Linked DNA regions of Homo sapiens. The protein of the gene in region 1 interacts with the protein of each later gene in a biochemical or structural test. Each region holds a gene or a part of one and is shown in the gene's direction. Other genes may lie near its edges. The genes, in order: PABPC1, GSPT2, TOB1 and PAN3.

Region 1 (2,721 bases):
TCAATGCAGTTAAAAACTTTTTTTTATTGAAGGGAGTTTTTGAATGTTTCTGTTCCTAGGTGAACGGCTGTTTCCTCTTATTCAAGCCATGCACCCTACTCTTGCTGGTAAAATCACTGGCATGTTGTTGGAGATTGATAATTCAGAACTTCTTCATATGCTCGAGTCTCCAGAGTCACTCCGTTCTAAGGTGATTTAAATTTATTTACCAAGTTGCCTCTTACACAGTTATTACGTGGCTTTTTATGGGGACTTAATTGTACAGAACACTTACATCGTGTTATATATAAGCCATGTACAGTTGTAAAGTCTGCATAATAACCTGTGGCGCTATTTATCCCCATTTTATAGATAGGTAAACTGAAACAGGCTGAATAATTTGCCAAATGCTCACACAGCTCTTAAGTGGCAGAGCCTGGCTTCAAATCCCATCAGCTCCAACAGCCATACTCTCAACTGCTGCTGCTTTCTCTAGTGGAGAAAGAGAAATATTTTTCGAGTGTGGGGAGGACAAGGAAAGAGTAGTGCAGGGGAGCGATTCATAATTCTAGAATAGTGGTGTAATAGAACTCAAAATTGAATGGATATAGTTGTTTAGTGTAACAATTTATACTTTCATTTGAGGGAAGAAACTTATCTTTGTTGGGAATTGGTATGTTACCATTATGAAACTCTTTATTTCCATTCCTTTCCTGAACCAGTTTATCTGTTTTCCCCTTTTTTAGGTTGATGAAGCTGTAGCTGTACTACAAGCCCACCAAGCTAAAGAGGCTGCCCAGAAAGCAGTTAACAGTGCCACCGGTGTTCCAACTGTTTAAAGTGAGCTTTTCCCTCTGGTTTGTTGTTTTAAGCTTGTTTTCTTCATCTTTTATAAAGTTTGTTGAGCATATTTTGAAATGTACATAGCAAAAGATCATTTTACAGTTCATTTAAATGTATTGCTAATTTTTCAAGGAAAAGTGGAACTAACTATAGAGGAATTAAAGGAATTTTACCCGTTAACTGTTGGATTTTTAAAATCCCAGGACTTTCAGGTGGTGTTTTTTTTTTTTTTTTTTTTTGAGATGGAGTTTCGTTCTGTCGCCCAACCTGGAGTGCATTGACGCGATCTCGGCTCACTGCAACCTCCACCTCCCAGGTTCAAGCAATTCTCCTGCCTCGGCCTCCCGAGCAGCTGGGATTAACAGGCCCATGCCTGCCACCGTGCCCAGCTAATTTTTGTATTTTTACTAGACTTGGGGTTTTGCCATGTTGGCCAGGCTGGTCTGGAACTTCTGACCTCAAGTGATCCGCCCACCTCGGCCTCCCAAAGTCTTGAAATTACAGGCGTGAGCCACTGCGCCCTGCCAGATTTTGTATAGTAATATATATATAAAATGACCTGTCACAGGTTGGCTTTCATAGTTTTACCTTTCCTTTTTGGGTGGTGCCCTTGGGTCTCTACTACTGTCTTTCATCACTCCCAAGAAATTGAGTAGTGCAGCCAGGATCAGGACCAGGGATTGGCAAATGTTTTTTGTAAAGGGCCAGATAGGAAATATTTTGGGCTTTGAGGACTGTGTTATCTCTGAAATGATCTTGTTCCAGTGTTACCATGTCAAGACAACCATAGATAGTATGTATACAAATGAACAGGTATGGCTGTGTTCCAGTAAAACTATGGATAAAAACAACCACATTGCATTTGGCTAAGGGCTTTAATTTGCTACTGACAAGTGATAGTCCTGGTCTTAATTTGTTTTTTTAACATTTACAGATTGATCAGGGACCATGAAAAGAAACTTGTGCTTCACCGAAGAAAAATATCTAAACATCGAAAAACTTAAATATTATGGAAAAAAAACATTGCAAAATATAAAATAAATAAAAAAAGGAAAGGAAACTTTGAACCTTATGTACCGAGCAAATGCCAGGTCTAGCAAACATAATGCTAGTCCTAGATTACTTATTGATTTAAAAACAAAAAAACACAAAAAAATAGTAAAATATAAAAACAAATTAATGTTTTATAGACCCTGGGAAAAAGAATTTTCAGCAAAGTACAAAAATTTAAAGCATTCCTTTCTTTAATTTTGTAATTCTTTACTGTGGAATAGCTCAGAATGTCAGTTCTGTTTTAAGTAACAGAATTGATAACTGAGCAAGGAAACGTAATTTGGATTATAAAATTCTTGCTTTAATAAAAATTCCTTAAACAGTGCACGGATTTGCTTTTTTTCAAAGTCTTTATAATTGCCATGCATAAATAGGTAATATCTTAATGGTGCTGAGCCGACATAAGAATCTTTTATGAAAAATGTACTGTTAAGTTCAGGGGGTCTATTGGTTTTATGTAAAAGGCACAAGACAATTCCTGTAGTGCATTTTATGAGTTAAGGTTTCCATACGGATTATTGAAACAATTTGTTACATGTATTTGTTACATGATCTTAATATTTCATGTACAAGACTGACACCCATCCACTTTTGAAGATAAGCCAGTTTATGGGGTTTTTTTTTTTGCGGGTAGAGGTTGGGTCTCCCTATTTTGTCCAGGCTGGTCTCGAATTCCTGGGCTCAAGCATAAGCATAAGGCTTATTCCTGCATAAGCCACCATGCCTGGCCTGCCAGTTGATGATTATATTGAGGTTTCTAGGCTATGAGATTATTAGCTTAAACCCTTACATGATATAAAACAATGATAGCTACTCTTGAAGAGGATGTAGATAAGATAGGCTTTG
Region 2 (7,551 bases), on another chromosome or scaffold:
CAGCAAAACTCTAGGAAATGGAGGCTTAAGCTTTCTAGCCATCTCAGCACAGAGAAGCTTATTTGTGAATGGGGCTGGAACATACGCCAAGAGAACCAATATAAGGCACAGTGTTCTTAACTCTATGTTCACTAGCTCCTCAATATTTTTCTGTTCTCCTCCTTTCAGCCTACCATACACCACTGTTACCTAAACCTGGATGAAACTTAAGACTCTGCTTGTGCCCCAAGTTGCTCAGTGATGCTAGATGTAAGATGGGGAAAGAGAGGAATCTCAAAACCTAAACATATTATGTCCTCCAGTCTAGTGCTGTTTTGGTTTACCTAAATTCTTTAAAAAATAATTTTATTACTCCCAAATCAGCCACCTCCCCCATACCATAAGGGCCTATTATAAATCTTCCCCTATTCATCATTTTTCTTATTTTAGTCTTCCTTCACAATTTCCAGTCTCCTACTTCAGGAAAGAAACACAAATCCTCATGAAAGAACTACAGTGAATTATCCTTTCTCTCTTAAATTTATTATATTTCCATTCTTTCCAGATAATCTAAGATTTAACCTTCTTCCTCTATTTGTGATTTAACTCTGCCAAATCTCCCTATTCCTTTCTTTATATATATATATAATAGATGATACAAGCCAGTGTGGTCTTAGAATCATATTGTCTGTGTTTGAACTCCAAGTCCGCTATTTACTAGCTATGTGACGTTGAGTAATCCCTGGCCTCTCTGAATGTTATTTTCTTATCTGTAAAACAGTGATAAGATTACCTTCTTCAAAGGATGATAGGGAAAATTAAATGAGAGAATCCATATAAAATAATTGAAATATGATCTACGCTTAGGAAGCACTCAATAAAATTGACTATCAGATAGATACAATTCAACTATGAAATACAGGCAGAGAATAGAGAGAGCATTTATGCAAAGAAAAAATCTGTTTATTTTAAATCATATTGATGGTGGTGGTACTGAGACAACTATATGTGTAGGTGGGATAAATCAAATGAGTAATTATTTTATTTTCTAATTCTATCTATCTTTCCATGTTATCATTGAGAACCAGTATTCCTGGTTTGGCAAACATTTGTATAATTGGTCTGGTACATCTTGTCAAACCATATAATAAATAAACCATCAAGGACTACTAGCATAGTCTCAAAAGTGTTCAGAACTCAACCAGAAGAGGCACTGGCAAATGATCATCAATAAGTATAGTAAGCAAAATTTATCAAAATGCCTCAAATATATGTAAATCCAATAATTCACAATTATCCCTTTTAAAATCCTTATTTGTCATGTGTGTAGGATTCTAGGGAACCAACTCATTATTTTTTAAAGCTCCTAAATAACACGAAAGAATCAAGCACTTTTCCTGCATTTCCTTTGCAATCTATATCTGAAAGTAACAAAACTGTTGAAGGTAAATTTTTTGGAACAGCACTCCAGTTAATAAAAACAGAAAGAATGACAGAAGTGCAATATCACAATTTTGCAACCTCTAATGATATGTCTCTAAACAAGTATCAATAATTGTGGCTAACTGTAAAAAGAGTCACAACCCGACCTCATGTGCCTCTTGATGGAAATAATCAAAATTCCCTTGAAGTATTCTTGTTAAAAAATTGCACCTGAATCTGATCAAGCTCATAGATTTAATTATTGATAAACAGGAAATACAGAGAACAAAGGAATATTCTAAACTCTACCATAGACATACAGTCAGCAAAGCTGAGAATGTAAAAAAACAAAAAAACAAACAAAAAAACCTCTCTACCAGTCACATCATCCACTTTCCTCAATAAATAAATGACATGAAAAAGGGGAAGATAGGTTGGGTATCCAGAGATAAAAAAGACTTAAAAGAAATATCAAAAAAGCAGGCCAAATTGAACTGTAGTGTCTGAGTGTACACATTTGTGTAATAAAACTATACGGAAAATCGTATAGGTTATTACCATAAATGTCACAATAGCAGTTACATTGAGAGGTGGAGGAAGTCATTTGTGATTGAACAGGGCACAAGGAAGCCTTCTGGGCTGGCTGGCAAATTTCTCTTGACTTGGATGGTTGTTACAAGTGTGTTTCCTTTCTCATAAGTCAATAACCTATAATTTTTAATGTGACTTTCTGTGTTTGTGCTATATTTTACAATAAAAAAGATTTTTAAAGGAGGAAAAAGATTGAATTAAGCAATGGTTGGATATCACCTACACTCTTTTTTAAATTTTCCTCTTTGGTGAGGAAAATTCTCTCATTTACTGATGAACTCTTAGGCAGAAAGACTGGAGACAAGCATCCCATCACACAAACCAAAAGATTTTTGTCCAAGGCCAATCTCTCTGGACACAATCTGGTCAGTGCTTCTCTCTCTTGCGTTGAACTGCCTCCCCTGGAACCTCATGAATGATGGATTATGAGGACATTCACAGACTATTTCTGACTTCTCCTTTATCGTTCTAACAGTGAAGTATCCTCTGTTCTCTGAGATATCACTAAGTAGCAGTCATACCAATATGTTCATGACCAATGCATTCGACCCAGGTGAAGGAAAAATCCCAGATGTCTCCTGCTTCCTTGCATGAATTACCTTATGTGAACACGGCTGCCAAAACCTTGACAGGTTCTCCCAGAAATGTCCATTCTAGGTTCACACAATGTCCAAGAAGGCTCCAGCACTTGTGTGGAGGGTCTCTCTGCACATTCTACCTCTCAGTTCTTCCTGTTTATTGTGAATAGGTGTGCACATTCTCTTTATGTCACTGTAAATAATTAATCCATAACCGGAGGCAAAAAGAATGAAGGTGTGGAAACAGTACAGAGCTAGTATAATAGTGGCAGCCCCAGAGTGAAAACATCAAGGGTCCAAGTCTGTCTTTTTTCCTACCCCTAAAGTCTGGAGAACACAATTCTCAAGTTATAATCAGGTACTTGGTTTTATAATATTTTGCTTTGTTGTTGGATTTAAATATCCAACTATGAGGCCAGGCGTGGTGGCTCATGCCTGTAATCCCAGCACTTTGGGAGGCCGAGGCAGGTGGATCACCTGAGGTCAGGAGTTCAAGACCAGTCTGGCCAACATGGTGAAACCCTGTCTCTACTAAAAATATATATTAAGAAAAATTAGCTGAGCTTGGTGGCGGACGCCTGTAATCCCAGCTACTCAGGAAGCTGAGGCAGGAGAATTGCTTGAACCCAGGAGGCAGAAGTTGCAGTGAGCTGAGATCATGCCACTGCACTCCAGCCTGGGCAACAAAAGTGAAACTTTGTCTCAAAATAAAAAAATAAATCCATCTATGTGACACCATCTTGTACTAAGCAGATTGTTTGGACTGAATAGTCTTTCTAGGTATGTCACAAAACCTGAATTCATAAAAGCAAAAGGTGACAGATTTGAGTACATGAAGACTAAAAACAGATTCAGAGAATAAGTTTGTATTTTCTATGTCAGTTTGCACTAAATTAATTTACAAACAAGGTCGCTGAGGCTTTGACTCAACTGTTAACACTTTCTGAGAGTGAGATTCTTTTGATTAGGGTCTTAAGGTCTTTGTTCATCTCAGAAGTCTTAATTGGTTTAATTAGGCTGACACCTACAGCCCTGTCTCATTACCATAAACTGTAGAGGGGTTCAACATGACACTGATTGTTTCTTAGAGCAAAGCCAGTGCAGTGAGTAGGATTCCAGGCCCCCCGGAATGAAGCAGGAAAACCCGAGGCCTGTGGATGCAGGATGTACTAGGGAGGTGCTGGGGAGTAGTGCAGATAAACCCAGAATTCAGTTGGTTGGTAAAACAAGAGTGATCTGAGTCCTGTGCTTGTCTACGTGATCCACCATTGAATGGCAGGCCAGCCATTGTGCAGGCATCTGCATATGAAGTGACTGGAAGCTTCACTGGAACAAGGATCTCCTTGGAAATTCTCTCCCCTCAGACAGCCAGGGTGCTTAACATGAAAAGAAGTTGTAACCCTATCCTTAAACTATAGAAGCCATCAGCAGAAGTTACAGGCTTATGGGGGCCCACTGGAAAGGGAAAATCAAAAGGCCTGTGGATTTCAAATTAATGAGTGATCTTAAGTTGCATTTCCTAAGTTCGGCTACAGACTCATATATTTCATGAGTCCCTCCCTACCCATTCCTTGCCTCTCCCTTCAGTTGCTGGGTTTCTGAATTTCTGTATAGTTAACCCTTATCTTGCCTCCCATTTGTTCAATAGAAATGATCACTTTTACTTGAATCTTTTGGTAGAATTGTATACCATGTGTTCCTGTCTAGGTTTAATCATCAGATTGTGGTCAAATTGCTCTGCCAGACTGTGTGAACAAAAAAGTGAATGGAAATTTTCGTTTTAAAAAATAATACTTTTGGACTTAGCCCGTGGCTAAGAAGAAGTAAGGAAGCCAAGCGTACGGATAGCAGCGAGGGGTCAATCCACGCCCGGCGTTGGGTCGGGGGTGGAGGAGTCGGAAGTGGTTGGGGTTTGGGGGAGGAGATCCGCTCACACACAAGAGGAGAGTGTTGAGCCGCCATATCTGCTGCTGCCGCCGCAGTTGCGAATGCAGCATCGGCGCTTAGCTGCCTCCGCGGTGCAGCTAAGGTTCGTGTCGCTACCCCTTGGCCCTTCGCTCTTGCTGCCTTAACCCCGCCGGCGGAGCCCGCTCTTCTGGCCTGTTGAGCCCGCTCCCTCACTGCCACACAGCAAGTTCCGAGACCATGGATTCGGGCAGCAGCAGCAGCGACTCGGCGCCCGATTGCTGGGACCAGGTGGACATGGAATCCCCGGGGTCGGCCCCGAGCGGGGATGGAGTCTCCTCTGCGGTGGCCGAGGCCCAGCGCGAGCCCCTCAGCTCGGCTTTCAGCCGTAAGCTCAACGTCAACGCCAAGCCCTTCGTGCCTAACGTACACGCCGCGGAGTTCGTGCCGTCCTTCCTGCGGGGCCCGACTCAGCCGCCCACCCTCCCGGCCGGCTCCGGCAGCAACGATGAAACCTGCACCGGCGCGGGATACCCTCAAGGTAAAAGGATGGGACGGGGGGCACCTGTGGAACCTTCCCGAGAGGAACCGTTAGTGTCGCTTGAAGGTTCCAATTCAGCCGTTACCATGGAACTTTCAGAACCTGTTGTAGAAAATGGAGAGGTGGAAATGGCCCTAGAAGAATCATGGGAGCACAGTAAAGAAGTAAGTGAAGCCGAGCCTGGGGGTGGTTCCTCGGGAGATTCAGGGCCCCCAGAAGAAAGTGGCCAGGAAATGATGGAGGAAAAAGAGGAAATAAGAAAATCCAAATCTGTGATCGTACCCTCAGGTGCACCTAAGAAAGAACACGTAAATGTAGTATTCATTGGCCATGTAGACGCTGGCAAGTCAACCATCGGAGGACAGATAATGTTTTTGACTGGAATGGTTGACAAAAGAACACTGGAGAAATATGAAAGAGAAGCTAAGGAAAAAAACAGAGAAACCTGGTATTTGTCCTGGGCCTTAGATACAAATCAGGAGGAACGAGACAAGGGTAAAACAGTCGAAGTGGGTCGTGCCTATTTTGAAACAGAAAGGAAACATTTCACAATTTTAGATGCCCCTGGCCACAAGAGTTTTGTCCCAAATATGATTGGTGGTGCTTCTCAAGCTGATTTGGCTGTGCTGGTCATCTCTGCCAGGAAAGGAGAGTTTGAAACTGGATTTGAAAAAGGTGGACAGACAAGAGAACATGCGATGTTGGCAAAAACGGCAGGGGTAAAACATTTAATAGTGCTTATTAATAAGATGGATGATCCCACAGTAAATTGGAGCATCGAGAGATATGAAGAATGTAAAGAAAAACTGGTGCCCTTTTTGAAAAAAGTAGGCTTCAGTCCAAAAAAGGACATTCACTTTATGCCCTGCTCAGGACTGACCGGAGCAAATATTAAAGAGCAGTCAGATTTCTGCCCTTGGTACACTGGATTACCATTTATTCCGTATTTGGATAACTTGCCAAACTTCAACAGATCAATTGATGGACCAATAAGACTGCCAATTGTGGATAAGTACAAAGATATGGGCACTGTGGTCCTGGGAAAGCTGGAATCCGGGTCCATTTTTAAAGGCCAGCAGCTCGTGATGATGCCAAACAAGCACAATGTAGAAGTTCTTGGAATACTTTCTGATGATACTGAAACTGATTTTGTAGCCCCAGGTGAAAACCTCAAAATCAGACTGAAGGGAATTGAAGAAGAAGAGATTCTTCCAGGATTCATACTTTGTGATCCTAGTAACCTCTGCCATTCTGGACGCACGTTTGATGTTCAGATAGTGATTATTGAGCACAAATCCATCATCTGCCCAGGTTATAATGCGGTGCTGCACATTCATACTTGTATTGAGGAAGTTGAGATAACAGCGTTAATCTCCTTGGTAGACAAAAAATCAGGAGAAAAAAGTAAGACACGACCCCGCTTCGTGAAACAAGATCAAGTATGCATTGCTCGTTTAAGGACAGCAGGAACCATCTGCCTCGAGACGTTCAAAGATTTTCCTCAGATGGGTCGTTTTACTTTAAGAGATGAGGGTAAGACCATTGCAATTGGAAAAGTTCTGAAATTGGTCCCAGAGAAGGACTAAGCAATTTTCTTGATGCCTCTGCAAGATACTGTGAGGAGAATTGACAGCAAAAGTTCACCACCTACTCTTATTTACTGCCCATTGATTGACTTTTCTTCATATTTTGCAAAGAGAAATTTCACAGCAAAAATTCATGTTTTGTCAGCTTTCTCATGTTGAGATCTGTTATGTCACTGATGAATTTACCCTCAAGTTTCCTTCCTCTGTACCACTCTGCTTCCTTGGACAATATCAGTAATAGCTTTGTAAGTGATGTGGACGTAATTGCCTACAGTAATGAAAAATTAATGTACTTTAATTTTTCATTTTCTTTTAGGATATTTAGACCACCCTTGTTCCACGCAAACCAGAGTGTGTCAGTGTTTGTGTGTGTGTTAAAATGATAACTAACATGTGAATAAAATACTCCATTTGAAACTCTTCGGTTATTTGAAATGCTTTTGAATAATGTTTAAATGTCATTATGTAATGCTATTCAATTAGCTTTATTACTTTCTCAAATAGTTGAATATGTTCTATCACTTAAAAACTTAAAAACTCTTCACCACTTACTGTTTTAAGTGAGGAATTTACAAACAATGCATAAGTGTGTATTAAAGGAATAATTTTAATTTTGAGAAAAAAACGTATGTTAAGGCTCTTCCCAGTGGGCTTTGTTTTCTCTGTCCAAGTCCAGTCAATAAAGGAGCTCTTCTGCTTCCCCACTTGTGATTTGAAAATGAAAGGCTCAGGCCGTCTTTATTTGTATAGCAGTAGTTCATGTAACATTATCCATAGGTTCTTGAAGACTACAACATTAAGCAAAACAATGTACAGCAGGTGTACATCGTACAACAATGCACAATGTATGACATTGTTCAATGTTGTTATGACATTGTTCAATGTTGTTATGACATTGTTCAATGTTGTTATGACCTTGTTCAATGTTGTTTAGTTATGACATTGTTCA
Region 3 (7,076 bases), on another chromosome or scaffold:
TGTAGTCCCAGCTACTTGGGAGGCTGAGGCAGGAGAATCACTTGAACCCGGAAGGCAGAGGTTGCAGTGAGCCAAGACTGTGCCACTGCACTCCAGCCTGGCGACAGAGTGAGACTCTGTCTCAAAAAAAAAAAAAAAAAAAAAAAAGAAGTAAAATGAGTATTAATAATTATACACCATGTGATAGCTATTCTCCTGTAACCCTTTCTCAATTTACAAGGAAGCATATTAAGAATTAGAAAACTTAGGATGTCTCTATCTCAGAAATCAAGGTGTTGCATGTGTGTGTTCTTGTGTGGATTAGGTAATAATTCAAGGCACTTTCAAGAACTGTATTTTATGAAGATATTGGAAGTTATTTTTTACCAAACGATTACCTTTATTGTAAGGGCCCACTGGGAATTGTGTAGAATGTAGGGATGTGAAAGGCAAAGGCTGTAGTTTCTAGTGACTGTTATTTGCTCAGAGAGAGGAATACCTCTTGATTGTGATACACTTGGAGCCTAATATCAAATTCTTTTTTCCTCCATAAGTCTAATTCCCTGCACAATTAGCAGTTAGCCCTCCACTCCCCTGCACAATTCCAAAGTAAATGTTAGATAATAATAAGCCATATGCAGAACTTGGATAAAGAACATTTTATACCTCGTGACTGGCAATGTTCAGAGATGTGAATCAGTTTTCCCTTTTATTTGCAATCCATATATATGTATTTTTTTTCTTTTTTGAAACGAAGTTTTGCTCCTGTTGCCTAGGCTGGAGTGCAATGGCGCGATCCCAGCTCACCGCAACCTCCGCCTCCCGGGTTCAAGTGATTCTCCTGCCTCAGCCTCCCGAGTAGCTGGGATTACAGGCATGCGCCACCATGCCAGGCTAATTTTGTATTTTTAGTAGAGACAGGGTTTCTCCATGTTGGTCAAGCTGATCTCGAGCTCCCGACCTCAGATGATCCACCCACCTTGGCCTCCCAAAGTACTGGGATTACAGGCGAGAGCCACCGCGCCCTGACTTGCAATCTGTATTTGAAGAACAGCTGCAGTATATATGTTAGGAACATTGAGTTTTAAGGGCGGAATATTTTATTTATTTATTTTTTTGAGAGAGAGTCTCGCTCTGTCGGCCAGCAGGAGTGCAGTGGCACGATCGCGGCGCACTGCAACCTCCATCTCCCAGGCTCAAGCAATTCTCCTGCCTCAGCCTCCCAAGTAGCTGGGATTACAGGCGTGTGCCACTACACCCGGCTAATTTTTGTATTTTCAGTAGAGACGGGGTTTCACCGTGTTGGCCAGGCTGGTCTCAAATTCCTGAGCTCAGGTAATCTGCCTGCCTCAGCCTCCCAAAGTGCTGGGATTACAGGCGTAAGCCACTGCTCCCAGCCAAGTGTGGAATTTTTTTTTAATTGAAGGAGACATTAGATATGATCTAATTCAACCCTTTTTATAGGTGAGAAAACTAAAAGTTTATTGAAACTGGTGTGAAACTCAGACCTCCCAGTACCCACCCTTCATTGCTTTTTCCAGTATGCCATGGGGCCTCCGTGTGTGTTGTTTGTGTGGTGTGTGTGTGTGTGTTTATATTTGGTCAGACATCTTCTTACACTCCTAGGCCAAGCAGCAATAACTCATAAATTTTTGACATCTACATTTCTGACTTAAAAATGCTTTTAATGCTACTGATATTTAATCAGTACCTATCAGATGACTGCTCTCATATTTCAAATCTGGAATTACAGATTGAAGACATTCAGAAAAGAGAACTTGTCCCTTCTCTTTAGAGAATTATTGAAAAGTACAGATAAGTTTGACAAAATTACAATTCATCTATCTTTAGACATTTTAGTCTCAGCCATGCCTAATATGCCCCCCCAATATAAAATTACTAATCAAGACACATGGTCCCGCAGTTCTAGATGTTTGGTACAGTACCATTATTTGCCTAATGGTAAAAGAAGTTGTGCTTCTAGAACACGTGAAAAATGAAGTGTTTCTTTTGGTAAGGCATTCCAAGGATATCCTGTCTAGTTTCTTGAAATTTCTGTGCTTAATTAGAAAACTAAAAATAACTCACTTTTATTACAGATGGACTTGTCATTACAGAAAACCAAAAACAAACAAATAAAAAAAGAAAACTGAACAAATCATTTATATTTGACGCTTTGATGACATTTCAATGCAGAGGAAGGGACATTTTAATTTAAATGCTTTCACAGTTTTGCCATACTTTCACATTTCAATTCCACTCCTGTTTGCAACTAAAAAACCCAAACACTCAAAAAAAAAAAAAAATCACATTAATCAGAATTTAAGGAGTCACTTAGTAAAACTATGTTTTAGGAATCTGTACAATAAACATGAAATCAGTCACCTGACCACTCCCCACCCTCAGCCCATTCCACAAACCCATCTTCCCACCCCTTCTCCTACGCATTGAGCCTTCAGAAATACCCTTTCTCAGTGCGGTTCCTTCTAAAAAGGAGAGGCGGGAGAGTCAGGGTGGAGAAGGCGGCTCCAACCAGATTTTGCGTCCACAAAGCCAAAAGCTTCTAGGCCTGGCATGTACGGCGGGTTTGTGCCCGAGGAGCACAGCTGGTCTACACGGGCCCGCCCCGTAGACACCCTACTCCTCGGTGAGCTGCGGTTTAACTTCCTTATAGCAGGTTGAGAGTGCAGGCCCCAACGTTTGGAGGGGAAGGCGGCGCCCCAACTGGTGTTTTTCCAGGAAGTGCTCCAAGAATGGAGAGGAGAGGGGAAAGGGGAAAGGGGAAGGCCAGGCGATGGGCGTTTCATTCATTGCTTCTTTCTCCCCGTCCCCTCCTTCGCTCCCCCCAGACTTTCCCCTTTTCCCAGTCCGAGTTTGACGTCGGTCTCCTGGATACCAGGCAGCCAATCGCCTCGTTGCGAAGGGACCAGCGCAGCCAATCAGGCGTCGTTGCTACCTGTGAGTAATATTTTTAGCTGAGAGGGACGCTCGATTCCACTCCCGATGTAATTTCGTGTATTTCTCTGGGGCAGGTTGTGAAAAAGGCACTTACCCGCCCCCCACCACGAGTCCCTCTCTTACCCCACTCCCTAGGTACCCGCACATATTTCAGCCAAGAATGATCTTAAACGCGCTTTACAAGCAGGCACCGCGTTTATTCTGTGCACCTGCGATCCAGCAAGCCCTAGAAATGCACGCATGCGTGTGTGTGTAGACATGGACACAGATACATACGCAGTTTGGCCTCGTGTCGCCACACTCTGGGCACGGCGTGGGCTGGGACATTTGGAATAAACGGATCCGAGTCGCAGCCGGGGTCGCACCGGGAGGCCTGAGGCTGCGGAAGCAGTTAAACTGCCGGCGGGGCGGGAGCTGTGGCGGCCTCCCTTCCCCACCCCCAGCCCGGCTCCACGTCTTTGGGTTCTGCAGCTGCCACTCTCTGGGTGGCGGTTGGCCTAGGCCTTGGGGTGATTAATATTCAATTAATCGGGTGCACAAGTCCCGGTCACAGTTTGCCCTTTCTCTACCCCGCCCCTGGGGTGGGCTGGAGGCCGATTTGGTAGCTATTCCACGAGCAGGATCCTCCTTGGCCGCAGACCCCCGCGGAGAGGGCACTTTCTGGGTACTCTTGCCGCTCCTCCAGCCCCGGTTCTCCTGAGCCGCTTCGCCACCAGCTTCGTCCCCCTCCCCCTCTGCCCGGCGCTCTCCGCCTAAACCGGGCGTCAGCCGCCCTACCCCACCCCTTTCTCTCTCATTGGCACGTCTGCCCCCACAGTCCCTTTCCAGACGTTCTCTTCATTCCGTCCCCAGTGCTCCGATCGTCGGTTCATTGGCCCTCCTGGAGCCCGGAGGGTGCGGCTTCCCCACCCCTGCGTCCGCCGCGCGTCCGGACAGGGGCAGGCGGGACTTGGCCAATGGCGTCGGGGGGCAGGGCAGGGGCGGAGCCGGCCGGCGGGGGACCGGGGTGCCGGGCGGGGAGCGCGGGGAATGGCTGCGCCGCCGGAGCTGTGTGACGCGGAGCGGGCGCGCGCACCCCGACGGAGGGGATGGGGGCGGGGAGGAGGCCATAAAACGAGAGGCGGGGCGCGCGCCGCGGCAGAAGGAGCGAAGCTCTGGCCCGGCGTGTAGCGGGCGCACTACGGGGACGCTGGGCCGGGCACCGGGCTGTGTGGAGAAGTGAGCGCGCTCGTCTGACCCCCGTGCCCGCCACCCCGAGCCACTAACGGCGATCTCCCAAGGCCTGCCCGAGGCCTCTGTCCTCTGTCCTCAGCCCCGCAGCGGCAACGTCTTGCACTCGGCGAGCTCGCCGCTCCCGACCCTCCCGCGCCCCCGCCCTGCCGCGCTGCTCCCCGCCCAGCCGCGGGTCTGTGGTCCAAGCCGCCCCGAAGCAGCCCGTAAGTATCTCGGGGCGCCGGGCGGGGTCGGCGAGGAGACGGGAGCCCCGGGCCCAGGCGGCGGAGGAGGGGCTGCAGCGGCGTCGAGCCCTGGGCCCTCGGGAGCTCGGGGACGGCGGGGTCGCGGCCCTGGGCGCCGAGGGGGCAGCGCCAGGACCCGAGGGGAGCGGCTCCGAGGGGCCGCCGGCGCGTCGGGCTCGTCCTGGGCAGTTGGCCGGGGACGGGCGGCCCGGGGCGAGCTGACGGGAATTGGGGGGTTGGGGTGCCCGGAGGAGCGACGAGCTCGCGGTGGAACGCTGGGGTTCGAGGGGCCGGTGGCCGCGAGGCTGAAAATGGTGCCGAGGAACCGGTGCTCCCCCAGGCTCTGGCCGGCTCCCAGGAGCCCGGGGCGGGGGCCACGGGGCGGGGAGCAGCGGGTCGGGTTACGGCGGGGGAGGGGAGCGGCTGACCCGGCGCCCCGACCTGCTCGGTGCTGGGTGCCCAGCCGGGAGAGGTTGCTCTTCCATTTCCCGGGCCTTCCTCCTCCTTCTCCGAGGAGGCTCGTACTCTCTTCCTCCTCCACCTCCACCTCCTCTTGCTGTTGCTGCTGCTGTAGCGCTTGGGCTCCGAGGGCTGTGAGCAGAAATCTAATGAGATCTAACTGGCTGTTTATGTAATTCTTCACACTCCTGCCTGTCTTAAGGCGTTGCTTTGTAACTACCTTCCACCGAGCCTGAATTTCGCTCGGCTGCACCTTCAAGCAATTGGGCTTAATCAGCTGCCTCTGCCGGCACTCAGGCTTTTGACTTGGAAAGTGTTTGTAGTTTGGGGGCAGCCAGAGATTCTTTTTCCCTTTGTCACCACGAATATGGAAAATAGAACAGACGAATTAAGACCAACTTGATTTTTAAACGTACTTTTAAATCAACTTCAGTGTGCAAATAGATCCCTTTCGCAAATATCTTCTGTTTGCCCTTGATCTTTTCTTATCCCCACCCAGTGCTGATCCAGCAAACGTTTAAAGGTCGACCTTACCATACTTGCCTCTCCGGCTGTTACCGTGAGAGGGAGGGAGGGAGAGAGGGACAGACGGAGGTTTTTTAAAATCAGACTAAAACTCAGAAACCCTGGCCTTAAACAGAATAATCAATAGTTTTAATTTGTGTCTTTGCTTTTGTTATACTTGCTGCCGAATAGGTATTTTCAGATTTAGAAAAATACACATTGAAAACAAAAGGCCCAGAGAAGCTGGATTTTATTATATTGTATGCTCTTAGTATACTTAAGGCCGAAACTATATAGAATAATTTGGTTCATAATTATTTACTAGGATGAAGTTCATTTAGTACTCAGTGTCTTTAATTTTAGCATCATGTACTATGGAAATTAAAATGATCTTCCTAACGTAACCAAATTTTTAAATGTCAGTGACAGAGCAGATTTAAACAGTATATATCCAAAGTAAACTAAAACATGGATTCACTTCTAAGTTGGTGAATAACAATAAAAATTACTACCTAAAAGTGGCATCTATATATATGGGGGTGGGGGGAGGATGCTGAGTACAATAAATATTCTTGTGAGAACTGAGGAGAGAAGAATGCATGTTCTAGAGATTTTTCTTCTTAGAACTCTATTCAGAAACAGGTTTTTAAAAGCATTATTTCATTTGTAAATCTACATTTTCCTGTGTCATTTTAAACTTTAATAAACGATTTTCTATTTTATGTTTATTTTGTGCTAGTAACAGTTTTCAGGCTTTCTGTCCTAGTAGACATTTTCTTTTTCTTTTTATCCTTAGCAGACTAACACAGGATCTTAGACATTTTGAAAGGTGAAATTACTTTGGAGGGGGGAAGGTCATGGGACTTATATTACATTTATCTTATTTGGATATGTTTGCTTTTGTTTTAAGGAACAAGATCACTCAAGGTGAAGGATAATCTACTAATACCAGCACTTTGAATGAAAATTTGTTTCTCTGCCACAAACTGAACATCTTTTTTTTTTTTTTTTTTTTTTGGTGGGGGAGTTGAAACCTAATTTTGTGGCGTAGCAGCTATGCAGCTTGAAATCCAAGTAGCACTAAATTTTATTATTTCGTATTTGTACAATAAGCTTCCCAGGAGACGTGTCAACATTTTTGGTGAAGAACTTGAAAGACTTCTTAAGAAGAAATATGAAGGGCACTGGTATCCTGAAAAGCCATACAAAGGATCGGGGTTTAGATGTATACACATAGGGGAGAAAGTGGACCCAGTGATTGAACAAGCATCCAAAGAGAGTGGTTTGGACATTGATGATGTTCGTGGCAATCTGCCACAGGATCTTAGTGTTTGGATCGACCCATTTGAGGTTTCTTACCAAATTGGTGAAAAGGGACCAGTGAAGGTGCTTTACGTGGATGATAATAATGAAAATGGATGTGAGTTGGATAAGGAGATCAAAAACAGCTTTAACCCAGAGGCCCAGGTTTTTATGCCCATAAGTGACCCAGCCTCATCAGTGTCCAGCTCTCCATCGCCTCCTTTTGGTCACTCTGCTGCTGTAAGCCCTACCTTCATGCCCCGGTCCACTCAGCCTTTAACCTTTACCACTGCCACTTTTGCTGCCACCAAGTTCGGCTCTACCAAAATGAAGAATAGTGGCCGTAGCAACAAGGTTGCACGTACTTCTCCCATCAACCTCGGCTTGAATGTGAATGACCTCTTGAAGCAGAAAGCC
Region 4 (7,482 bases), on another chromosome or scaffold:
CAGTAGCACGATCTTGGCTCACTGCAACCTCTGCCTCCCAGGTTCAAGTGATTCTCGTGCCTCAGCCTCCCGAGTAGCTGGGATTATAGGCACTTGCACCAGGCACTTGCACCACCACGTCTGGCTAACTTTTGTATTTTTAGTAGAGATGGGGTTTCACCATGTTGGCCTGGCTGTTCTGGAACCCTGGCCTCAAGTGATTCGCCTACCTTGGACTCCCAAAATGCTGGGATTACAGGCGTGGGTCACTGCGCCTGGCCAAAAAATCTGTCATGTATCAGTTATTTATCACTGCCACAAATAGGAAGGTTTTTGCTTCTAGTGCACCCAAAATTTGTCAACAAGATTAAATTAAGCAGTTGCTAGTAACTTTGTATAAAATTATAGAGCTTAGTGCATAAGGAACATACTTTACAAATATGTAAGAAATGTATTTATACATATGCAGCAAATTTCATTTCTAGGACTCAAAAACAGTCAACTCTCATTTATCCACATGCAGTTTCCACTCTATCTTAAGGGATAATTTTTATTTTTTTTTGAGACAGGGTCACCTTTTTTTCACCAGGTGACACCAGGGTTGCTGTCACCTAGGCTGTCACTGCAGCCTCGACCTCCTGGCCCAAGCAATCCTCCCACCTAAGCCTCCCAAGTAGCTGTGACCACAGAATGCCACCATGCCCAGCTAAATTTTTTTGTAGAGACAGTGTTTCCCTATGTTGCCTAGGCTGGTCTCAGAACTTCTGAGCCAAGTGATTCTCCTGCCTTGACCTCCTAAAGTGTTAGGATTATAAGTGTGAGCCACATGCTTGTCCTTAAGGGAGAATTTTTAAGACTCAGGCTGCTATCACTAATATAATAATTAACCATTCAGAAAATGTGACGTTTTCCTCTCAATCTTTATTATTATTAATTTTGAGATGAAGTCTCGCTCTGTTGCCCAGGCTGGAATGCAATGGCGCAATCTCGGCTCACTGTAACCTCCGCCTCCCAGGTTCAAGCAATTCTCCTGCCTCAGCCTCCCGAGAAGCTGGGATTACAGGTGCCTGCCACCATGCCTAGCTAATTTTCTGTATTTTTGGTAGAGACGGGGTTTCACCACGTTGGTCAGGCTGGTCTCAAACTCCTTACCTCAAGTGATCCACCCACTTCCGCCTCCCAAAGTGCTAGGATTACAGGTGTGAGCCAATGCGCTTGGCCTCAATTATTAGCATTTAATAGAAATTAACATTACCCTTTAGCAATGTAGTCTCTGTTGCTGGGGAAATGCTGTTGGAGGTCAAGTATACATTTTATGAATAATTTATGGATTATTTGCAGTTTTGGATGTAATCTTCATTAACATGAAAATAACTTAGAGTTGACTACATATTTATTTTTAGTAAAGGAATACTCAACAATGAACCCTGCTTAAAAAGACAACCCTACTATAGGAATAAGTAGTTGTCTCCTAAAAAAGTGTGGAGATATGAAATGTGTGGCAAATAAGTTTATTTTTTATTTATTGACCGAGAGGGTCTCACTGCTGTGCAGGTTGGCATAAAATGGCGCCTTCAAAGCTCACTGCATCCTGGAACTCCTGAGCCCAAATGATCCTCTGCCTCAGCCTCCCCAGTAGCTAGGACTATAGGCAAGTGCCTCTACACCTGGCTAATTTTTAAATTGTTTTGTATAGACAGGGTCTTGCTAGTTTTCCCAAGAGGGTCTTGAACTCCCGGCCTCAAGTGATCCTCTTGCCTTGGCTTCCTTCCAAAGCAGTGAGGTTAGAGGTGTGAGCCACTGTGCCCTGCCATGTTGACTTTTAAAAACCCTGTAATAACTTCCAATTGTCCTCAAGAAAAAGTTCAATTCTTTTTTTTTTTTTTGAGATGGAGCCTTGCTCTGTCGCCCAGGCTAGAGTGCAGTGGTGCGATCTCACTGCAACCTCTGCCTCCCGGGTTCAAGCAATTCTTCTGTCTCAGCCTCCCGAGTAGGTGAGATTACAGGTGCCTGCTACCACACCCAGCTAATTTTTGTATTTTTAGCAGAGACGGGGGTTTCACCATGTTGGCCAGGCTGGTCTTGAACTCCTGACCTCGTGATCTGCTCGCCTCAGCCTCCCAAAGTGCTGGGATTACAGGCGTGAGCCACTGCGCCTGGCCAAAAGTTCAATTCTTTAACATGGCCCTACAAGGACTTTTGTGGACTCTGCTCCATTTTCCACTATCACTGTATTCTAACAATAAAAGCTGTTTGCCTAGAATGCTCTTTGACTATACACTGACTACCACTAGCAGCAATACTACTTTTTTTTCGAGATGGAGTCTCGCTCTGTCGCCCAGGCTGGCGTGCAATGACGAGATCTCGGCTCACTGCAACCTCTGCTTCCCAGGTTCAAGTGATTCTTATGTCTCAGCCTCCCCAGTAGCTGGGATCACAGGCGCTCGCCACCACGCCCAGTAATTTTTTTGTATTTTTGTAGAGACGGTGTTTTACCAGGTTGGCCAGACTGGTCTCGAACTCCTGATCTCAGGTGATCCACCCGCCTTGGCCTCCCAAAGTGCTGGGATTACAGGCGTGAGCCACTGCGCCTGGCCAATACTATTAATAATAGTTACAACCTACCGAATTCTTATTAGGCATGGGACAGTTTATATACATTATTAGTTATACTTTATGAAGTAGGTACTATTCTTAATCCAGGTGTACAGACAAGGCACAGAGAAATGAAGCAATTAACTGAGAGGAACACAGCTATTAAAGTGTAGGCACTTTAATCTGTTTCAATCCAGATCTGTCTGAATTCAATGATGTTCCCAAACTTGGAACATGAAAATATCAACTTTCTCCAAGAAGTCTGACATGTTTAATATCCTCTAATAGCAAATGTGATAAGGTTAGCACTTAAGACACTGGTTTACAACGGACCTGTGTACTTGATGCCTCCCCAACCGGAAGATAAGCCATCTGAACTCACTTAAGGCGGCATGTTCACTTTTGCTTCCCCAGCTCCACAGTTAAGTGTACCACAGTTTCTGGTACACGTAATGCGTGTTAATAAAGATTTGTTGAATAATCAAATAAGCGAAACTGCTTTTAAACAGAAAGCCATAATACAATGTTATTACCTTCGAATTTGGCTAGAGAACATCACCAAGCTTACCAGTTTGTGATCTAGACTCCACTTTTCCCCATTTTTTTCAGTGTGCTACTTTTGCTTATATCCATTCTTCTGTGACTTTGTTTGCCACAATTCCTTAAATACTTCCACCCCTCCTTTTCATAACAGCGATCTGCCGTTTGTGAACCTCTTTTACAGAGAAAAACTAGAATGTTACTTTTCCTTTCATAGCAATTCTTTAAAATTTCTGAAAGCCTTTAAAAGGGTATTAGCGCAAACATCAGAGATCGCTGAGGTTAAAACTATCTTTTAAAAATGAATTTCACCGTCTCAAAAAAAATAAAAATGAATTTCAAATCAAGGCTAGGCTGATTGGAGAAAAGCAACCTAGTATATTTATAAAGGTCTTCCAGTGCTGTCTAAGCAGTGTTGTCCCAGGTGGCATCCTATTTTTCATAATTTACCGAAGGCCCTTGGTAATATAAATACAGAGAATAACAGGTGCTGCACTGAGCAGGGGGTCTGTCTAAATCAACCTTTTTGGCTCCATTTTTTGACAAAGGGCCAAGAGGTTAGCGTAATCGGTCCAGTAGTTCTCATTACCTTCGAGGGGAAGGGGAAAGAGGAGAGGGGCGAAGAAAGGAAACGGGGAGAGGAAGTGTGGCAAATAGAAGATATTCTTCAGGTAGAGCCAGGGCTCGGGCCGCGTCCCCAGGTGGCCCCTCCAAACGACCGTTTACCTTGTCAATTTTCTCTTTTCAATGAAAAAAAAAAAAAAGACATCTGGCTTTTTAAGTAAGAGAATATACAAATAAGGAAGGTATCAGGTCTCGTGAGAATTCGGCGCCAGATCCGCGTCCGGAACCCCACCGAGAGCCGCCGGTCCAACCGCCGATAGCTCGCGGATGCCCCCGGGGGCCCGACGCCGGCCAGGCTTCCCCTAGCGCTCCCGCTACCCATAAGCCCTCGCGTCTCAGCGCGCACGCGCAGCGGCGACGGCCGTCTCAGGAAGAGGAAAATGGAATAAACAACTCGGAGGAACCAGAGCGCGAGAGAGCGAGTGGAGGCAGAATTTAAAAATAAACCGGCCCCTCCGCCTTCCCCACCCGCTTGCCGCTGCCGCTCCCTCTTCCCCTGCCCGCGCCCTCGAAGTCCCCGTCTGGGCCCGCGCGCTCACCCCGTCGTCCCGCGCGGCCCCTTTAAGAAAAGAGAACGAGAGAGTGAGTGAGAGAATCCCAACTCTCCCCCTACCCTCCCTCCTTCTACCCCCTCCTCCCTCCCCTCTCCCCTCCCCCTTCTCCCCGGGCGGCTCCGGCTCCCGCAGCGGGACAGACCCACCCGCCCAGGCTTTTATCCGGCACCGGCAGCGTCTTCCTTTCCTCCCCCGTCTATGGTGGTGGCGGCGGCGGCTCCTCGGGCGGCGGCGGAAGACGAGGCTGCGGCGTTGCCATGAACAGTGGCGGCGGCCTCCCGCCCCCCTCGGCCGCCGCCTCCCCTTCCTCCTCCTCGCTGGCGGCGGCGGTGGCGGTGGTGGCCCCGCCGGGGGTCGGGGGTGTCCCCGGCGGGGCGGCGGTAGGAGTGAAGCTGAAGTACTGCCGCTACTACGCTAAGGATAAGACTTGCTTCTACGGGGAGGAGTGTCAGTTCCTGCATGAGGACCCTGCCGCCGGGGCTGCCCCGGGCCTCGGCCTCCATAGCAACAGCGTCCCCCTGGCTCTGGCTGGTGCACCCGTGGCCGGCTTTCCGCCGGGAGCCGTCGCGGGCGGGGGAGCTGGGCCGCCCCCCGGGCCCAAGAAGCCGGACCTGGGGGACCCGGGGACCGGAGCCGCAGCCGGCGGAGGAGGCAGTAGCGGGGGACTCGATGGACCGCGGCTGGCAAGTGAGTGTTTTTCGGGCGGGGCGGGCCGCGGCGGCGGAGGGCAGGCCTGGGCCGGATGAGGCCCTGCTGCCGACGGGAGCTGAGCACGGCCCGCGGGCTCCCCCCCTCACCTCCCAAGGCGGTCTGAGAGGCCTAGGCCGGGCCTGAGCCCTCCTTCCTTCTTCCTGCTTCCCCTCCCCACTGCCTTCGGCAAGTCGGAGAGCGCGGGGAGGTTGGGTTCCCGGGAACGTGGGTGGGAGGACTGGGGTGATGTGAAGGGGGGGCGGGGAGGAAGGGGGATGGGCTGTGGCGTGCGGAGTGTGAGAAAGGGGGTGTCGTTTCCGGGGGGTGTGGAAAGGGGCTGGGTTTGCAGGCACATGTGTTTTGCGTGTCCTTGTGGAGTGGCGTCTGCAGAGTGTTGAGGTTCCCTAGTGGGGAGGGGTGTGTTTGTGTGTGTGTGTGTGTGTGTGTGTGTGTGTGTGTGTAGGGGGCGGGAGGTGAGGGGCGGGCTTAAGGCTTCGTGGAGTAGGTTGAAAGAACGGAAAAAGTTTGTAGAAGGCTTGCGGGAGAAAGGTTTTGCAGGCAGGAAATGCTTTCTAAGGATTAGGAGGGAGCGGACTGTCGCGTTCAAAGTGTGCTCAGGTTTAATCGAGAGTTTAGAGTAGGGATTTCACAAAGACGCATTTCATCTGAGTTTCCCTGAAAGCTAGAATAAGTTTGCTGGTGTCAGCTGGGATCCTGTCTTCTATAGCTTTGTATCAAGCAAACTCAGCATTGTGTCTTGAATGCATGTCATGTGCAGCCTGCGTTTATGTGCGACTGAGCACTTGGGTGGGGACATCTTAAGGCTGTTTATATTTCTTTTTCATGTGTTGTTGTTGTTGTTGTTGTTGTTGTTTTGGAGAGAGTCTCGCCCTGTCGCTCAGGCTGGAGTGCAGTTGCGCGATCTCAGCTCACTGCAACCTCCGCCTCCCGAGTTCAAGCGATTCTGTTGCCTCTGCCTACGGAGTAGCTGGGACTACAGGCGCGCGCCACCACGGCCAGATAATTTTTTGTAGTTTTAGTTGAGATAGTAGTCTCGTTGTGTTGGCCAGGCTGGTCTCAAACTGCTGGCCTCAAGTGATCTGTCCTCCTCAGCCTCTCAGTGTGTTGTTATCTATTGACCTGAAGCTTGTTAGTTGTTAGTGGAGTTTACAATTGAATGTGAGCGTAATCTGTTAGAGAATGTTGCCTTTACGAATAGAGCCGGTGCCAGATGTCCCTGTTTTGTTTCTTAGTATATTGAGCGTTTCTAAACCAAATAGGAGTCCTACTTTCTTGGGAATTCTGGAGAACTAGATCTTAAAATAATCTGATAGGCAGTTCAATTTGTACATGAGAACATTTTGTCTTTTTCTTAAACACTGTTAATGAACCTGATAGGAAGTTTTAGCATTTAATTGGTCTATGAGGATTATTTAATATCTTCCCCGGGGTTTTGCTTTCTTGCTTTTTCTTTCGAGACGGGATCTTCCTATGTTGCCCAAGCTGGCCTGGAACTCCTGGGCTCAAGCGATCTTCCTGCCTGGGCCTCCCAAAGTGCTGGGATTACAGGAGTGAGGCACCATGCTGGGCCAAGTGTTGTTCTGTTCTGTTCTTTTCTCCTTTCTCTCTTCTTTCTTTTTCTTTTATAGAAGTGTTTCATTTGTTGTGATGGGCTTGACTTTAATGAAGATATATTTGCTAAGGCTGATAATGCTAAGAAAATTAATTTTGTAAATTCAGATGTTTTGTAAAACAAATGGTTACTTATGGGTGGAATTTTATCACTTTCGAGCATCAACTTTGCATTTTCAGGTTAAAGTTTTGCTGGATGTGTGAGTCGTGACTCAGTAGTAATGTTTGATTAGTAACCAATGACACTGAACAATAGTTTTCTTACTGACAGAAAGAGACACTTTTTTTTTTTTTTTTTTTGAGACGGAGGCTTGCTTGTCGTCCAGGCTGAAGTGCAGTGGTGCGATCTCGGCTCACAGCAACCTCCACCTCCCAGGTTCAAGCAATTCTCCTGCCTCAGCCTCCCAAGTAGCTGGGTTTTACAGGCATGCGCCACCACGACCGGCTTATTTTTGTATTTTTAGTAGAGACGGGGTTTCGCCATGTTGGCCAGGTGGGTCTCGAACTCCTGACCTCAGGTGATCGTCCCGCCTCGGCCTCCCAAAGTGCTGGGATTACAGGTGTGAGCCACTGTGCTGGCCAGAAAGAGGCACTTTTTAAAATGCTGGTGTTAGACTTCATAGGTGATCTTTCTAGGATTCTCTTTTTAAAAAAAACTTTTAAAGTTTTATTTATCTATTAATCTTATTCCTGACAGACAGCTCTGACGATCATTCTAGGATTTTCTTTTTCTTTTTTTCTTTTTTTTTTTTTTTTTTTTTTGAGACGGAGTTTCACTCTTGTTTACGAGGCTGGAGTGCAATCTAGTGATCTCGGCTCACCGCAACCTCTGCCTCCCGGGTTCAAGAGATTCTCCTGCCTCAGACTC

What was found.
Region 2: the proteins of PABPC1 (region 1) and GSPT2 form a complex in vitro, tested with the Homo sapiens proteins (4 studies listed by BioGRID and IntAct, with this or other methods).
Region 3: the proteins of PABPC1 (region 1) and TOB1 form a complex in vitro, tested with the Homo sapiens proteins (2 studies listed by BioGRID and IntAct, with this or other methods).
Region 4: the proteins of PABPC1 (region 1) and PAN3 form a complex in vitro, tested with the Homo sapiens proteins (4 studies listed by BioGRID and IntAct, with this or other methods).

The regions. Positions count from the first base shown.
Region 1 is NC_000008.11:100,702,395-100,705,115, reverse strand, and holds the end of PABPC1 (polyadenylate-binding protein 1), read left to right. Parts: intron 1-59; coding exon 60-190; intron 191-725; coding exon 726-818; 3' UTR 819-819; exon of another isoform or gene 820-1,756; 3' UTR 1,757-2,200; downstream 2,201-2,721. UniProt on the Homo sapiens protein: Binds the poly(A) tail of mRNA, including that of its own transcript, and regulates processes of mRNA metabolism such as pre-mRNA splicing and mRNA stability.
Region 2 is NC_000023.11:51,738,912-51,746,462, forward strand, and holds GSPT2 (eukaryotic peptide chain release factor GTP-binding subunit ERF3B), read left to right. Parts: upstream 1-4,530; 5' UTR 4,531-4,715; coding exon 4,716-6,602; 3' UTR 6,603-7,321; downstream 7,322-7,551. UniProt on the Homo sapiens protein: GTPase component of the eRF1-eRF3-GTP ternary complex, a ternary complex that mediates translation termination in response to the termination codons UAA, UAG and UGA.
Region 3 is NC_000017.11:50,863,355-50,870,430, reverse strand, and holds the start of TOB1 (protein Tob1), read left to right. Parts: upstream 1-4,076; 5' UTR 4,077-4,373; intron 4,374-6,267; 5' UTR 6,268-6,413; coding exon 6,414-7,076. UniProt on the Homo sapiens protein: Anti-proliferative protein; the function is mediated by association with deadenylase subunits of the CCR4-NOT complex. Mediates CPEB3-accelerated mRNA deadenylation by binding to CPEB3 and recruiting CNOT7 which leads to target mRNA deadenylation and decay.
Region 4 is NC_000013.11:28,134,109-28,141,590, forward strand, and holds the start of PAN3 (PAN2-PAN3 deadenylation complex subunit PAN3), read left to right. Parts: upstream 1-4,436; 5' UTR 4,437-4,549; coding exon 4,550-4,979; exon of another isoform or gene 4,980-5,066; intron 5,067-7,482. UniProt on the Homo sapiens protein: Regulatory subunit of the poly(A)-nuclease (PAN) deadenylation complex, one of two cytoplasmic mRNA deadenylases involved in general and miRNA-mediated mRNA turnover.